Linked DNA regions of Homo sapiens: region 2 is linked to region 1. A link means that fine-mapping ties the variant in region 1 to the expression of a gene that starts in the linked region. Tissue or cell type: whole blood. Region 1 holds a variant in brackets; the other region holds the start of a gene. Each region is shown on its reference strand, or each on the opposite one. Region 1 has its middle 28 kb from the start of CPEB4. Region 2 holds the start of RILP (Rab interacting lysosomal protein).

Region 1 (2,500 bases):
CAAACTATTGAACAAATTTCAAAGACAAGAAAATAAAAGGAAGTAATTGAATATTTCAAAGCAGTAAATTGGTGGAGGATTAGAGAAATGGGTTTAGGGTGTAACTTCTTCTCTTCTAAGGTCACAAAAAGAAGAGCACCTACCCAAGATCAGAAAACAAGCAAGGTGGCAGCAGCTGGAGTGTTAGCTACAGAGTGGATCTTTCACTGGGCTTTCTGTGAGGATGGAAATACTCAGATGGCCATCACAACATGAGGTTGGACCGTGTAGCATGTGTGCTCTGTGTGGAAACATCAATATCCTTTTCAGGGAATGTGCATAATTTATATACACGGTATATGCATATACTTATATGTGCAGTGAAGTCAGAGAACTCACTGCCCTTGGTGTTAAATGACCAAGGTTCAGATTTCAGGTTAGTTATTTCCAAGCTGCCCAGTACTTGGTGAAACCTCTCATCTCTCTTAACCTTAGTTTTCTCGAAATCTGTAACATGGTATGAGCAGATTTCTCACTGCATAGAGGGTTAGTAAAGTGGTGAATATTTGCGCTGAATAGGGGCTTAGTTCAATGTTGCCCACATCATTCTAATATCTAACTTATTTATTTCAAATGCAGAAAGGTAAAATAGGCCTCTCTGCTACCAGCTTCCCCTCCCCACCTGTGTTATCACCTGGAAGCAGTTCCAGAGAAGTGGGGGACACCACAGACTCTGGAGCGAGACTGCTTCACCATTTCCAAGCTGGGTGACCTAAGGAGGCAATTTACCTAACCTCCCTTTGCCTCAGTTTTTCCACCTATAACGTGGGAATAATTATAGGAACTCCATCTTAGAGTTCTTAAGAAGAGTTCCAAGGTTCCAGGGTTCCAAGCTTTCTTGGAACCCTGCCTGGCACATAGCAAGTGTTCAGAAAATGTAAGTTATTACAGCATTGTTATTATTTTTGTATGCTGAGTGCTTTCTTGTGGCTGCGTTTCAAGGGTTGCATTGGCCCCCACCCCCATCATATTCCAGCTGCCAAGCCGGGGAACCCAGATCTGTAGGGCAGCGAGGAGAGAGGGTTGTTGTCTTTCAGTGATGTCAGGGGAG[C/T]TCCTTATCAATAATTGAACAGTTTTTCCAGGAACCCAATCTAGAGCATGCAGTGCCCTGGCTGCAGCAGGGCCTGGCTGGCTGGCGTCCCCGGAAGGCTCTGGGCAGAGGGAATTGTTATCTTGGTGCTGGTCCTGCCTGCTCTGTGGGGGAAGGGATCTTGTTGCTGGTGGCACGGCTTCTGTTGGAGGGTGGGACTCAAGACTCAAGCCTGGGGCAGCGTTCTTAATCTTCACCCAGGCCCTCCTGCACTGTCCTGCTCCAACAGTCCTTAGACTAGCCTTATTCTTCACCCAGTTTGCTCAAGCCAGGAGCCTGGAAGTCATTCTGAACACCTCCCCTCCCTCGCTGCTCACTTTTAAGCTGTCGACAACTCTGCATTATTTTGCTTTTAAACATGTCCCAAATTTGCCCCATTCTTCCTTTCTCATTGCCACTGCCCTCATTCAGCTATGTCTGGGCTTCTACAGCACTCCACTGGCTTCCCAGGTCCCCACCCTGCAACCTTTCCCCACTCCCCTCTTTCTAAAACACACACACACACACACACACACACACACACACACACAGAGAGAGAGAGAGAGAGAGAGAGAGAGAGAGAGAGAGAGAGAAATCTTTCTAAAATGCAAATCCGGTCATGTCACCTCCATGCCTAAACCCTTCAATGCCTCTGTGTTGCCCTTAGGGAAATATATTCAACCCCTTTATGTGATCCTCAAGATCTGTTGCCAACCTCTGTCCAACTTCATCCTGAGCCCTTCTGGTCTTCATTTGTGACCTTCTGGCCATATTGCCCTGTGTTATTCCCTGTCCCGGGTAAGCTACATCTCACCTCTGGGCCCTTACCCTTCTTGTTCTCCCTGCCATGACTGGCTCCTACACATCTTGAAGTTCTCAGATAATGTCACCTCCTCGTAGAAGCTTTTCCTGATCCTCCTGTCTAAAGCAGTGACCACATACCCCACCCTTTTCCCCTGCCCCAGCCCTTGAATATTTCCACCATGAGATAATCCCAACAACAATACCCTTGTCAACCTACCAGCTTTCTTATTTATCATCTGTCTCTTGCACTAGAAGGTGAGCCCCTTGGGGACACACAGATCCTGCCTGACTTGCTCATAGCTACATCCTCAGGACATCCAGTAGACCCTGGTGTCTGGCAGGTGGGCAGCAAATATTTATTCATTGGGCAAATGCAAGCAGGGAGGTTGTGTGGTGGACTGGGGTGAGTGCTGGGCTTGGTTCCCCAGCTCTGTTACCTGTTCCCTGTGTGCAATGAAGTATGTCATCATCGTAACTCTCTGAAGATTGCAGCTGGAGTCAGGAGATCTTGGGTCTAGTCAGACTCTGCCACTTCCCTGCTGTGTGAGCTTGGGCAGCTAAACTTATCTCTCTGAGCCTCCTTTATTC
Region 2 (3,008 bases), not on the chromosome of region 1:
GACCTGTATGCCTGACCGTTTCCCTGCCTCCTGCTTCAGCCTCCCGAGGCCGAAGCCTCAGCCCCTCCAGACAGGCCGCTGACATTCAGCAGTTTGGCCTCTTTCCCTCTGTCTGTGCTTGTGTTGTTGACCTCCTGATGGCTTGTCATCCTGAATAAAATATAATAATAAATTTTGTATAAATAGGAGTTCAGGGGCTGGTTTGTTTTTTTTTTCCCCCCCAAACTCAAATTCTGGATTTAGGTCTAACAGGAGGCTGGACTGGAGCGGTTCACAGCAAGATGCTGGGCTCGGCTGTGAAGGGGGGAGTATGAGGCCCCCTTCCTATTCAGGGCTTTGGGGTAGATAGCCCCTGGACTCAGTGGAGACCTGAGGCAGGGCTGGGCTTTCACACTCCGCTGCCTTGACCACATTTGCTGCTTTTTCCACAAAACTACTTGGAAGCTCTCGCCTCCTTTCCACAGTTTTGGGAGCAGTTGCCCTTTCCCGGGTCTAGGAACTCTGTGGCTTGTGCTGAGCGGCTGCGGTGTCCAGCCCAGCCCTTTAAGCTTTCTGTGTCAGTCCTGGTCAGGAAAACAAGCACACAGGCAGGCAGTTTGTGTACAGCCGGGCGGAGGCCAGAGACCGGCTGCCTACCTGTCACCTCTCGCCTGGAGCGGGCCACTGCCAAGTTGGCCCCATGACTCCAAACGGGCGGAGCCTGGATTGGGCCTGTGGGGAGGGCTCCACTCAAGTGACCACTTGCAGCCCTGAACCTCAGCTCTTGGACGCCTGGCTGGAAGTTGGCTGTCTTGTTTCCTGTGACCTTGGGGGTGGAAAGGACAGAGCCCAGGCGACCTAGGGCACTATCTCCCTACCCCACGCCTTCTCCCTTCCTCGTTCCTCCCTACCCTTATCGCTTCTACCCCGCCCACACCGCCCTAAACGGCTTCCTGGGGCGGAACTGTTTCGCTTTTCCCCGTCCCAGTGGAGGGTGGGGTGGGGGGGTCGCAGCCCTAAGCCTCTGGGAGACATGGAGCCCAGGAGGGCGGCGCCCGGGGTGCCTGGCTGGGGGTCTCGGGAGGCCGCGGGGTCGGCATCGGCCGCGGAGCTTGTGTACCATCTAGCCGGGGCCCTGGGCACTGAGCTGCAGGATCTGGCGCGCCGTTTCGGGCCGGAGGCGGCGGCCGGGCTGGTGCCGCTAGTGGTGCGGGCGCTGGAGCTCTTGGAACAGGCTGCCGTGGGGCCCGCCCCGGACTCGGTGAGTCATGGCCCTCCCTTCGCCACCCACGGGGCCGGCAGGGCCGAAGCCTGAGACCCGGGTCTCCCCAGCTGCAGGTGTCGGCGCAGCCGGCGGAGCAGGAGCTGCGGCGGCTGCGGGAGGAGAACGAGCGCCTCCGCAGGGAGCTGCGCGCGGGGCCACAGGGTAAGCGCAGCCCCGGCCAGGGCAGGGCGGGTGACGACCTGCTCGGGTCCTCCCCTCCCTCCCGCGGGCCGCGCGCCGCCGCCGCTAAGAACGCCCCTTCCTCAGAGGAGCGCGCGCTGCTGCGGCAGCTCAAGGAGGTCACGGACCGACAGCGGGACGAACTCCGGGCGCACAACCGCGACCTGCGGCAGCGCGGCCAGGAGACCGAGGCGGTGAGGGCGGGGCGGGGCTCTGGGGCGGGGCGGGGGCGGAGCGTGGCAGGCGCTGGGCGGGGCTCCGGGGGCGGGGGCGGAGCGAGGCAGGCGCTGGGCGGGGCTCCGGGGGGCCCTCGGTGCCCCGCCCACCCCACCCTTTGCTCCGCTCCCAGTTGCAGGAGCAGCTGCAGCGCCTCCTGCTGGTGAACGCTGAGCTGCGGCACAAGCTGGCGGCCATGCAGACCCAGCTGCGCGCCGCGCAGGACCGCGAGAGGGAGCGCCAGCAGCCTGGCGAAGCCGCGACTCCGCAGGCTAAAGAGCGAGCGCGGGGGCAGGCCGGGCGGCCCGGGCACCAGCACGGACAGGAGCCCGAATGGGCGACCGCCGGCGCAGGCGCCCCAGGGAACCCTGAGGACCCGGTGAGTGCCGTATGAGGGCAAGGACCCAGCCCAGGACGCAGCGTCCAGCCCTCGGTGGGCACTCAAGCAAGGTTTGCATGCTGCACAGCAGGTCGGCCAGGAAGCGGGGAGGTGGCAGACAGATCTGCGCCCCCGGCCGGCCTCGGCCCCCGCTCTCAGCTGGAGCACTGCTCTGTTATCTGTTAGGGCACCCTTGTCCCCCAAGTCTCCCGGCCCGTCACTTCCTCTAGCATTCCCATGATGGCCCTGGGGCGGGGGAACGCCAGCCGAGGCGACCCTCTGACTGTGCCTGTCCTTCCAAAGGCGGAGGCCGCGCAGCAGCTCGGGCGCCCCTCGGAGGCAGGGCAGTGCCGCTTCAGTCGGGAGGAGTTTGAGCAGATCCTTCAGGAGCGGAATGAACTCAAAGCCAAAGTGTTCCTGCTCAAGGAGGAACTGGCCTACTTCCAGCGGTGAGGACGCTGGGAAGCCGGGGGGCCTCCGATCACCCCACCTCATTCTCCAGTCATTGACATGTCCACAGTGACATGTGCCAGGCCTGCGCTGGGAACTGGGAGGACATGAATTGTACAGCCCTTGCCCTCCTGCAATGTCATCCAGACAGGGGAGAGGGACAGTACAAAGGGTTGCAGCTGCAGCAGCCAGGGAATCTCTCCTAGGAGGGGGCCACGGGGCCACCTAATTTAAGGTCTGAGGGTGTCAGCAAGGCAGAGCGCTTCCCGTGTTCAGGGAAGAGCTGCGTGCACAGGTACCAGGAGTGAGGACTGCGGCTGGCATCTCCACTGCTGGCATCCCCATGGCTGGCATCACCAGGGCTTTCTCCCTCCCTGCCCCTTTTCTTTAGGGAGCTGCTCACAGACCACCGGGTCCCCGGCCTTCTGCTCGAGGCCATGAAGGTGGCTGTCCGGAAGCAGCGGAAGAAGATCAAGGCCAAGATGTTAGGGACACCAGAGGAAGCAGAGAGCAGGTAGGTCCCTGCCTGCATTCCCACGG

What was found. PIP is the estimated chance that this variant, and not a neighbour inherited with it, causes the effect. A credible set is the group of variants that fine-mapping cannot tell apart.
Region 2: RILP starts here. The variant in region 1 is the best candidate, but not a certain one, in a credible set for the expression of RILP in whole blood (TOPMed, PIP 0.56).

Annotation. Positions count from the first base shown.
Region 1 is chr5:173,859,439-173,861,938 of GRCh38, reverse strand. No RefSeq gene overlaps it. Among named protein-coding and RNA genes, the nearest start is that of CPEB4, 28 kb to the left of the region's middle. RefSeq lists a cis regulatory region at 940-1,407. The variant C/T (reference allele first, on the strand shown) is at 1,091.
Region 2 is chr17:1,647,809-1,650,816 of GRCh38, reverse strand. It overlaps RILP (Rab interacting lysosomal protein), which reads left to right and starts at 951. Exons shown (of 8, transcript NM_031430.3): 1 at 951-1,240; 2 at 1,312-1,405; 3 at 1,511-1,617; 4 at 1,773-2,018; 5 at 2,322-2,467; 6 at 2,860-2,982. The coding sequence starts at 1,013. PRPF8 (pre-mRNA processing factor 8) reads left to right here. Exons shown (of 43, transcript NM_006445.4): 43 at 1-188. The coding sequence ends at 15. RefSeq lists a silencer at 1,348-1,642.